2 separate regions of the Homo sapiens genome follow, and region 2 is linked to region 1. The links come from fine-mapping of genetic effects on gene expression. A gene starts in region 1. The other region holds a variant in brackets. All regions are shown on one strand. Distances are between the middles of the regions. Region 1 holds the start of TFDP1 (transcription factor Dp-1). Region 2 overlaps TMEM255B (transmembrane protein 255B).

Region 1 (5,373 bases):
AGCCATATAAACATTGTTGAATTATCAGAATCCTGAATTTGTGGGGAAGACGTTTAAGACCCCAATTTTGGACCCTACGTGTGTATCCTCCTAACTGGAGCCCCCAGGTCTCAGGGAGAAGTCCCCAGAGGCTGGGAGGGTGTCACTGTTGCCATCAGGGCTCAAATACTGACATTTAGGAACACATAAAGAATCCCTGTGAAACAGAAGGAACGGACCTAGGAAGATAGGGCCATTTGAGGAACATCAGTGTTCTCTAAGTATCTATTTGTGTGAACCAGCTCGCAGAAAGTGAGCGTTTCTGGTAGTCTTCAAAGAAGAAACGGGTGCTAACTTGTAAGCAGTTTAAGCCAAGTGACCAGAGCTTTAGGGGGTGCGGCGTTGCCTGAGGGGCAGGAGTGGCCAAAATCAGCATAAAACGTGCAAAGTGGGCTGTCATGTAATAATACACCGCACAGGCAGAGAGGCCTTTGGTCAGCTCCTCAAGTCCTCTGTAGATGTTCCTTACCCTCGGCGCGCACCAGCCTCTGCCGCCTGCTGTGGCCCTGAACTTCGGACTCTTCTCTGGCCTAGCCCGCCCTTGGCTGGGGTGCTCGGGCCTGGCCCTAGCGGCGGGGCCCTCCAGGGTGGATTAAGTCTCCAAGACTCCGGGACCACCAGGCTCACCATGCAATGAAACTGTTTCTGGAGTTTTCCTGTCCCTGCTTTCCCTCCCGAGTCCCGGGCCAGGCTGCGTCCGGTGGGCACCGAGGACGCCCAGAATTGTTGGGAATCTGGGCGGAGGCCCGTCGTGGGCTTGGAGGCCACCGGGTCCAGCAGAGGCAGAGGCCTCTGTGCCACGCACGCACACACACCTGCTCTCCTCCGTGTGTCCACATACACACGTCTATGCACACACCTGCTCTCCATACATGCACAGCCCCACACACAGTCGGCCCTTTATGTGCACACACACTCGTGCACACAAGCGGCCCCCTCTCCTCCGTGCATACAGGCGCACACACAGCTGGCTCTCCTCTTTGAGCACACACACTCAAGCACACACCCGGCCCCGCTCTTCCAAGTGCACACACACTCCTGCACACACTAGTCCCTGCTCCCCCCCCCACACTCGCGCACACAGCCGGCACTCTCTGCTCCCTGCACACAAACACACATCCTGACATACCCGGCCCCCTACCTGCTGCCCCATGTGCACACACACTAGTGCACACACCAGTCCCCGCTCCCTCACATGCACACACACTAGTGCACACACCAGTCCCCGCTCCCTCACATGCACACACACTAGTGCACACACCAGTCCCCGCTCCCTCACATGCACACACACGAGTGCACACACCAGTCCCCGCTCCCTCACATGCACACACTAGTGCACACACCAGTCCCCGCTCCCTCACATGCACACACTAGTGCACACACCAGTCCCCGCTCCCTCACATGCACACACTAGTGCACACACCAGTCCCCGCTCCCTCACATGCACACACACGAGTGCACACACCAGTCCCCGCTCCCTCACATGCACACACACGAGTGCACACACCAGTCCCCGCTCCCTCACATGCACACACACGAGTGCACACACCAGTCCCCGCTCCCTCACATGCACACACACGAGTGCACACACCAGTCCCCGCTCCCTCACATGCACACACACGAGTGCACACACCAGTCCCCGCTCCCTCACATGCACACACACTAGTGCACACACCAGTCCCCGCTCCCTCACGTGCACATGCACTAGTGCACACACTAGTCCCTGCTCCCCCACGTGCACACACACTCTTGCACACAGCCGGCCCCGCTCCCCCACGTGCACACACCAGCTCCCGCTCCCCCACATGCACACACACTCGTGCACATAGCCGGCCCCGCTCCCCCATGTGCACACACACTCTTGCACACAGCCGGCCACCTCTCTCTCCGGACACACACAGTCAGAGGCGCGCACAAACACAGTCCCTTGGCCGCCGAGCGCACGCCGCGCGCGCGCACTGCCCGTCCCGGCGCAGGCCCCAGCTACATCTCCGCACGCGCACGCGCACACACGGACACGCGCGCACAGCCCCTCCCCGCTCTCCCAGGGCGCGCAGCACTGGCGGGAGGAGCGGGAGACCGAGGAGCAGCAGAAGAGGAGGAGGAGGGCGCCGAAGGCGCGAAAAGGCGCGCAGGCGCGCTGCGCGGAGCGGGCCCGCCGCCGCCCACGTCACCGCGCCGCGCGCACGTCACGCCGGCCCGACGCTCGGCCAGGGTGAGCCCCGCGTCCCGGCGCCACTCGGCCCAGGGCAGGGACCCCGCCACGGCCGGGACCGCCCGGCCCGGCCCCAGCCCGCGCCTCTCCGCGCCGCCCCGCGCTCCGCACCGCGCCCTCTCCGCGTCCCCGCCCGCGCGGCCGGACCGGGCAGCCAGGTGCGGGTGGGCAGGGGATGCCGCGGGAGCCGCGGGCGGGAGCCGGGGGTGCGGGCGGGACCCCCGGCCACCCCATCCCTTGCCCCGGCCGCGTGTAGGCGCCGCGCGGCCCCGACCCGCGCCCTCCCGCGCCCTGCGCGCTCCTGTGCCTCGGGGACCCCGCGCGCTCGGCGCTGGTAGGGGCTCCCCAGGTGACCGCGGGGCGGGGGTCCCGGGCCCGGCCCTCCCGGCCGACAGCAGCGTCCGCGCCCCACGCTGGAGGTGGGGCCGGGGCCGGGGCCGGGGCTGGGGCCAGGGTCGGCCGGAGCGCGCAGGGCGGGGGAGGGGAGGCCGCCCCACGGCGGCCCGCGGGGACCCGGTTCCGGCGCGCGCGGGAGGCGCCTCGTGCGGAGGCGGCCCGAGGCCTAGTGACAGGCGCGCGGCGCGGACCCCGGAAGCCCACCTGTCAGAGTTACCGGTCAGCCGGGCGGGCGCCGCCGGGGTCTGGGGTGGACGCCGCGAGCCTGCACGTTGCGCCGGGACCCCGGGGCTGTGCCCAGGTGGGTGGTGGGGCACCCCCCTGCAGCGGCGGGAGGGAGGCGCTGCGCCCTGGCTCCTGGGGCTCGGCCCCACCCTCGGCCGCTGGGCGGGCCGTCGGGGACCTGGGGGTAGTGGTGGTGACCCTGCGGGCCCGCGGGCCACTTTTCCGCAGGGGGCATTTCCGTCTGGCGAGGCGACTGAAAATCCTGAGTGTGGGAGTCGGTTTGGCCAGCTCCGCTCTCAGGATGGAGGGTGCCTTTGGGAAGGAAGGTCCGCGTTTCCTTTGAGATGTGTTATTTTTTAAACTTCGTTTTTCATTCTTACTTATTTCTTGTTTTTCCTTACTTTTTTTTTTTTTTTTACCAGAAAAATCATTTTTCTTCTCTGGGAAGGTGAACATTTGTAGCATTGATTTCCCGGATCTGGTAACATGGCAAAAGATGTAAGTATGTTTGCTTCATGCTGCACACGAATGTTTGCCTCGCACTAAATTCTTTGTAGTTCTCTGCCTTTATTTCAGAATGACAACACATAAGCTACAGTAGTGTTTATTTTCAGACTTTTAAAGCGTCTGAAGCGGGATGAAGGTGAAAGATGGAAGGATCTGATCTCTGAAGCTGCGGTCACCACCCACAAGTTGTGGCCTTGGATACCACACTGCAGTTGGGTGGTGATGGGGTGGTGCCTTCTGACTTTTTCCTTATCTTTACCGACTGTGTTAATTGATAATTTTAAATAAACGCCTTAATTAAATTGAGGTGGAGGGTGTTGCAGCACCGCAGCGAATCCTGCATTTCTTGGGGGGCTTCCACATGAGACGCTGGACGGGGGCCAGGCTCAGGGCTCAGGCTGTAGCCACCTGCTGGCACCTGTCTTCCTACAGAGGAAGTTAATTCCACTTGGGTGGACCAAGAGCTAAGGACTTGTTTTGGCCACTTTTTTTCTCAGAAGGATGAGATTTCCTGATTTATGAAATCTGGTAAAAAATGCTACTTAGCCTGCTTTGCAGTTGTCATGAAACTATAGAATATTTTGAAAATTTTTTAAAGCCAGAAATTTAGTCTATTTTATTGGTGTGCGGTTCTTTACCGTGCTTGGTTATGTCAGTCACTGAAACACCAGCTGGATTCTTTAGTGTTTCCCACCGTGCATCGTTTTGTAACTGAGTGAAAGGTGCTGTTGATGTGTTTACCTACTTACCGCACAGAGTTGGAAAGAGTCCGCACATGCTGCCTCTGCCTGAGATACATCTGTAGCGAAAATGCGTCCAGAGTGTGGAGCCCTCTCCGTTGGCGCAGAGGTTTCAGTGGTCCCTGCGAGGCCTTTTGGGGTGTCTGCCCTCCCTGACCTGCGACCAGGCATGTCACACGGCATCCCTGCCTTCAAGCACTGGGGTCCCCTTTAGAGAGGGTGTGTGAGCACCCAGGTGGACCCAGTGTGAGTTTTTGAAGTCATATCTGGCTGTGCTGCGAGACTACTTTTATCCTCTCCACTGTGCTTGTCCGTACCATGCCCTGACCTCGTGCGGGCATGCACTCAGAATGCCAGATGTGGGCATGTGCTCAGCGCGCAAGCCATGTTCATTACATCTCCTCATGGTGAGGAGCTGGACCCAGGGCCTCGGTTAGAGCACGCTTCTGGTGTTGTGTGGTTTCCTGTGTGGTTTCCTCAGATGGTTCTCAAACACGCTTTGATACATAATGGATGGTGTTTTCGGGGCCCTCTTTCATTCCCCCGTGATTTCACTGGCACTGTCTGTGAGCAGCATGTAGTGTGAGGCTGGGGGTGGGGGGCGTGTGGAAAGGTGGTCCGGCTCTGCAGGACCCTGAATGCTCCATCCAGTGTGGGCACCTGAGACGCAGCATTTGTCAGGAACTGCATAGGCACAGGGGCTGGGGGCTCACCTTGCACTCAGGGGTTGTGATCTGAGTTGGGGGTTGGCGCTGGGAGGAGAGTAGGATTCTGCAGCTGGTGAGGCCTTCCCTGCTCAAAGCCTGGGAGTGGTCAGGAGTGCTGGGTCTGGATGGAAAGTGAGGTTGTGAACAAGTCAAGGAATTTGATGTTTTCGCTAGCTCTTTTTTTTTTTTTTTTTTTTGAGACAGAGTCTCACTCTGTCTCCCAAGCTGGAGTGCAGTGACGCGATCTTGGCTCACTGCAACCTCTGTCTCCTGGGTTTAAGCAATCCTCTCGCCTCAGCCTCCCGAGAAGCTAGGATTACAGGCATGTGCCACCATGCCTGGCAAATTTTTTTGTATTTTTAGTAGAGATGGGGTTTCACCATGTTGCCCAGGCTGGGCTCGAGCTCCTGACCTCAACAATCCACCCGCCTTACAGGCGTGAGCCACCGCGCCCGGCCTAGCTAACTCTTTTAAGTAGAGGTGTGACATTTGAGTTTTGAAAAGATGATGTTGGCAGCTTTTGCAGAAGGGAACATCGATAACC
Region 2 (5,373 bases), 180 kb after region 1:
AATGGTGTGGGGACCTTGGCCTCATGTGAGGGGCTTTTCTGCTTCCTGGGCAGAAAGGGGAGCCCAGAGGGCAAGTGGCTGTGAGGAGGGACCTCCAAGTGATTTGCGAAACATCAAGATCAGCCTTGAGTGGTTGTTTTTTTTGGTTTGTCCTCAAGCTTATTTAAGAGCTGCCTCAGAATAACATAATGAAAAACATCAATGGCTAATGCCCAAGCTATGCTCTGTAAAGAATCTACCTTCTGGGCAATGAATTAATGCTGTGCTGACCAGATTGAAATGGCCTGTAGTACAGACAGTTCTGAAAGCAAACTAGGGAGACAACAAATAAAAGCAGCTTCAAGGAAACGTGGCTAAGAGTCACTTCTGTGGAGACTTTCTGCCAATGTAGAGACTTAAGAAGCTGATCTCAGAAGAAGCGGCCAGAACGTGAAAACATCTCCACATTTTCAAGAAAGGTGTGGTTTTTTTCAAATCCCCAAAAAATAAAACGTAGTGTAACAGATGTATTTTAATACATGTATATCGAAGTGAAATTTTGATATTTTTGACGTGTGGAGTTGAACTGCAGTATTTTGAAGCTCAGCACATGAAGAAATATTCCTGTTATCCCTGGAGAATTCTCAAACCGTTGGTGAAAGCCACATGTGTACGTGTCTATCACCACAGACACACAGACAATTACAGAAAAGGCAAAACTATTTACATAAAGAAGTCCGGTTTCCAGTGCATTAAACTTGACACCACGGCCCCAGCAACTCCAAGGCTGTGCCGGGCGGGCCACCCCTTCCAACAGACACTCACTGGGAAGTGCGACCGGCCCGGCGCACCTGCGTGGGAGCAAGAGCCGTCTTAGGCCTCGGCACGGTCGTTGGCAGGTCCATGTTGGCTGCTCTGAGCCAGATTTTCGGTGGGTGTTGCTGAAATGCATGTTCTTCACACTGATTTTAAAAATTCCTCTGCCAGGTGGGCGTCACCTGCCAGGACGGGCCCTGGGTGGAGGGTGCGGATGCCCGGCCGGTGGCCTCTGTTCTAAGACAGCACAGTCCCATGTCTATTTCCCGACATCCCAGTATCATTTTCTGCCCAGAGCTGGGGCTTCCTGTGGAGTAAGGGGGCTCTGCCGGACCCCTGGTGGCCTGTGCTGCAGCCCGGGGCCCCCTCTGTGCCTGGCCCAGGTGCCCCCTCTGTGCCTGGCTCAGGTGCCCTTTCCCCACACCTGGCACCTCCCTGCTAACGGTCTGCCCTGCTCACTCTCCCGAAGCAGCAACCAGAGTTAGGCCGTCTGAGCAGGGGTCACTGGTGGCCCTTGTGCCTGGCAACCCTTCTTTTGAAACACGGCTGTAGTTCCCTAATACCTTACCCAGGAGCCATGCTCAGGGGCATCTCAGGCCTGGAGAAGACGGGACAGATGGTGGTGCTTGGTGGCCCTGGGTTCCCGAAAAGATGTTGTCTCTGGGGGAGGAGTGGGAACTTCTCTTACCCCAGAGTCACAAGCCAAACAGATGCATCATTAAAAACCTCTGAGCAGAGAAGACAGGACAGGTGATGTTGCAGAGATGCCTGCCCAACGCCAGCAGACGCACCTGCTGCTCAGTGGTTGAGGTTCTTGAGGTAGGGATGTCTGGCCTTCGTCCCTGGATAAAATGCCTTTGAGGGCGGGATTATTTGCTTTAAATGTCAGTGTTAAGCTTCTAGGCACGTTAATGAGTGTTTCTCTCTCGTTCTTCCTTTGGTTTTAGCTCGGCTTTGGATCTTTCTTAGGAATTATTGGCATCAACTTGGTGGAGAATAGAAGGCAAATGGTAAGAAAGTACATGGGGTGGTGGGGAGCATGAGTCCCTCATCAGGGGATGGTACAGCTGCACTGGGGCTCTGAGAAGAGTCAGCCCTGCCTCCCCAGCACACTGGTGTCTACAGGACCAGCTCTGAGGTTCCCGGGCTGTGGCCTGCACAGTCCTGGATACAGGGTTCAGCGAGTACCATTCACACCTTAGTCTAAGCGAGCATGGCCCTGGGTTGCTGGTGTATCAACCTCACGTGGTGTGCAACCACCAATGCTGAGGCCTGGGAAGCTCAGAGAATGCATGAAGTTTGGGACGGGGGTGGCAAATTAAATTAAGTCCTAGTGTGTAAAGTTCAGGCAAAAACATGTGCATAAGCCTCTCTTCCTTTTGAACCAGTGGCTCTAGAGTCTTGTTTTTCGTCTGAGTTTGGTTAATGTTTATCTTGCCCAGACTAAGAGGAGAGGTAAAGACATAAAACCAGGAGGGAGCCCCCGGTTCACATGGCAGCAATGCAGAGTGAAATCCAGACACTGCCTGTCCATGATGTTCGTGGCTGTATGCGCGGCAACAGCGATCAGGTTCAGCTGGAAGTCTGTTTTGTTGATGCACTGTTTTGGGGACTATAACTTTAAAAACAAAAACTGGCTAATTTTGTCAGTTCACGGTGGCAGCCAGGATTGAATTTTAAGAGCAGGGTTTAGAGGGGAGGTGGTTGGGCCATTTCTGCCTCATCTCCCAGTTGTTGCTTCAGAGCAGGCTGGAGTTCTCAGCTCTTCCCTGCACCGGCTGTCATGTTACTGTATCATCCAGCGTGCAAATGACCTGTGTCGGGCCCCCAACCCCTGCCTGTTCCCAGTTCCCAGGCCGAGAGGGAGGGTGAGATGGCTGGGCCGCGGTGTATGCCCTCGGAACCCTGTATGTTAGTCTGTTTTCACACTGCTGATAAAGACGTACCCAAGACTGGGCAGTTTACAAAAGAAAGAGGTTTAATTGAACTCACAGTTCCACGTGGCTGGGGAAGCCTCACGATCACGGCGGAAGGTAAGGAGGAGCAAGT[C/A]CTGTCTTACGTGGATGGCAGCAGGCAAAGACAGAGCCTGTGCAGGGAAACTCCCCCTTGTAATAACCATCAGATCTTGTGAGACTTACTCACTATCATGAGAACAGCACAGGAAAGATCTGCCCCCCATGATTCAACTGCCTTCCACCAGGTCCCTCCCACAACACATGAGGATCCAAGATGAGATTTGGGTGAGGACACAGCCAAACCATATCACCCCGCATGGGACCCAGCAAACTCCCACTGCTGCCCAGGAGACTGACCCTTGGGCAGATGGAGCCTGACCGTGTGAGGGTGGGAGGTCCCTGGAGGGTTGGGGGTGGCTGCAAAGACACTGGGATTCTGGTGGAGCAAAGCGTTCTGTTCTGCATAGTAGAGACAGTGTGCACTGCAGGGTGAGCTGCCGTTCTTGGCTAGCAGTTGCAAAGAGACGGAGAGATAGGCCCGGCATTTCCTCTCCCACCCACCCCCTGTTGTTGGCTCCCGAGGGTGGGCGTCACAGCTGACCAGGGTGGGCAAAGGCCTCACACACACCAGTCACAGAATGGTGTTGGAAACAGACGCCACCTTTGGGAGCCAGCATGCCCCCATGATGGTCTCTAGACAGCATCTCTTCAGAGTCTGGAGCTGCTTGGTGCCTGTAGGGAGTTGGGTGGGCCTGAGGAGGGAAGGCCTCCTGAAGACTTTTCCATAAGATTTCCCCAAAGAGGCAGAAGCTGGGTGTGAAGCTGGGCTTTGGCGATGCACAGGATGGGTGGACAGTGTGGGTCTGTTTTTCTTTCCTTTTAAAAAAATGGCTTTAATGAGATATAGTCCACATTCCATATAACTCACCCATTTAAAGCACACAATTCAATGGTTTTTAGTGTATTCCCAGATATGTGAACCATCAGCACAGCCAGTGTTAAAACATGAATCACATCAGCAAGAAACCCACACCCTTCTCTTAGCACCCTACCTACCCAGCCTAAGCAACCAGGAATCAACTTCCTGTCTCTGTAGATTCCTACTCTGGGCCTGCCTGCGGAGGGAGTAATGTGTGATATGTGTTCTCTGTAGATTCCTACTCTGGGCTTGTGTGTGGAGGCAGTAACGTGTTATGTGCGGTCTCTGTGTCTGGTGTCTGGCACTGCGCATGGTGTCTTTAAGCTTCCTCCAAATTTCCTTGCTTTCTATGGCTGAATAATAATCCACTATATGGGCCGGACACGGTGGCTCATGCCTGTAATCCTAGCACTTTGGGAGGCCAAGGTGGGCGGATCACGAGTTCAGGAGTTCAAGACCAGCCTGACCAACATGGTGAAATCCTGTCTGTACTAAAAATACAAAATTAGCTGGGCATGGTGGCACATGCCTATAATCCCAGCTACTCAGGAGGCTGAGGCAGGAGAATCACTTGAACCTGGGAGGCAGAGGTTGCGGTGAGCCGAGATTGAGCCATTGCACTCCAGCCTGGGTGACTGAGCAAGACTCTGTCTCAAATAATAATAATAACAATGATAATAATAATAATAATCCACTGTATGGATGGGCCACACTTATCCATACACCAGTTGATGGACATTACAGCTGTTTACAGACTTTGGCTGTTGTGAATAATGCTGCTGTGAACATTTGTACATAGGTTTCTGTGTGAAAATGCATTTACATTTCTTTTGGGCATGTACCTAGGAGTGGAATTGCTGGGTCATACAGTAATGCTGTTTAATCATTTGAGGAACTGCCAGACTGTTTTCCAAAGTGGCTGCCCCATGTTACATTCCCACAGACAGGCATGAGGGCTCCTGTTTCTCCACTCCCTCACCAGCACTTGTCACTGACTGTTTGATTCTAGCCATCTAATGTGTGATAAGTGGTATCTCATTGTGGTTTTGATTGCATTTCCCTGATGATTAGTGATGTCGAGCATCTCTTCATGTGCCTATTGGCCGTTTGCATATGTTCTTGGAGAAATGTCTGTTCATTTCCTTTGCTCATTTTTACATTGGGCTGCCTTTTCCTGTTGAGTCATCAGAGTCATTTATGTATTCTAGATACAAATCGCTTCTCAGATATGTGATTTGCAAATATTTCCTCACATTCTGTACATTGCCGTTTCACTTTCTTAATGGTGTCCTTTGAGGCACAAAAGTTTTTAATTTTGATGAACTCTAATTTATTTTTTCTTTTGTTGTTCATGCTTTTGGTGTCATATCTAAGAATGTTTTACAAATCTAAGGACATGAAGATTTACCCCTAGATTTTTCTAGAAGAGTTTTGTAGTTTTAACTCTTCCATCTGGGTCTGTGATCCACTTTGAGTTAACTTTTGCGTATGGTATGAGGTAGGAGTTATTATAGTTTTAACTCTTCCATCTGGTTCTGTGATCCACCTTGAGTTAACTTTCTTCATGGTGTGAGGTAGGGACCCATGTTCATGCATTTACGGACATCCAGTTGTCCAAGCACCATTTGCTGAAAAGACTGTTCTTTTCTCATTGAATGGTCTTGGCACCCTTGTTGAAAATTAATTGGCCATACATATATGGTT

The links. PIP is the estimated chance that this variant, and not a neighbour inherited with it, causes the effect.
Region 2: its variant is the best candidate, but not a certain one, in a credible set for the expression of TFDP1 in whole blood (INTERVAL, PIP 0.52).

The regions. Positions count from the first base shown.
Region 1 is chr13:113,582,477-113,587,849 of GRCh38, forward strand. It overlaps TFDP1 (transcription factor Dp-1), which reads left to right and starts at 2,277. Exons shown (of 12, transcript NM_007111.5): 1 at 2,277-2,412; 2 at 3,298-3,373. The coding sequence starts at 3,362. RefSeq lists enhancers at 126-1,099, 1,100-2,071, 4,049-4,649 and silencers at 2,040-2,369, 2,740-3,109.
Region 2 is chr13:113,767,356-113,772,728 of GRCh38, forward strand. It overlaps TMEM255B (transmembrane protein 255B), which reads left to right. Exons shown (of 9, transcript NM_182614.4): 3 at 1,743-1,805. Among named protein-coding and RNA genes, the nearest start is that of TMEM255B, 11 kb to the left of the region's middle. The variant C/A (reference allele first, on the strand shown) is at 2,845.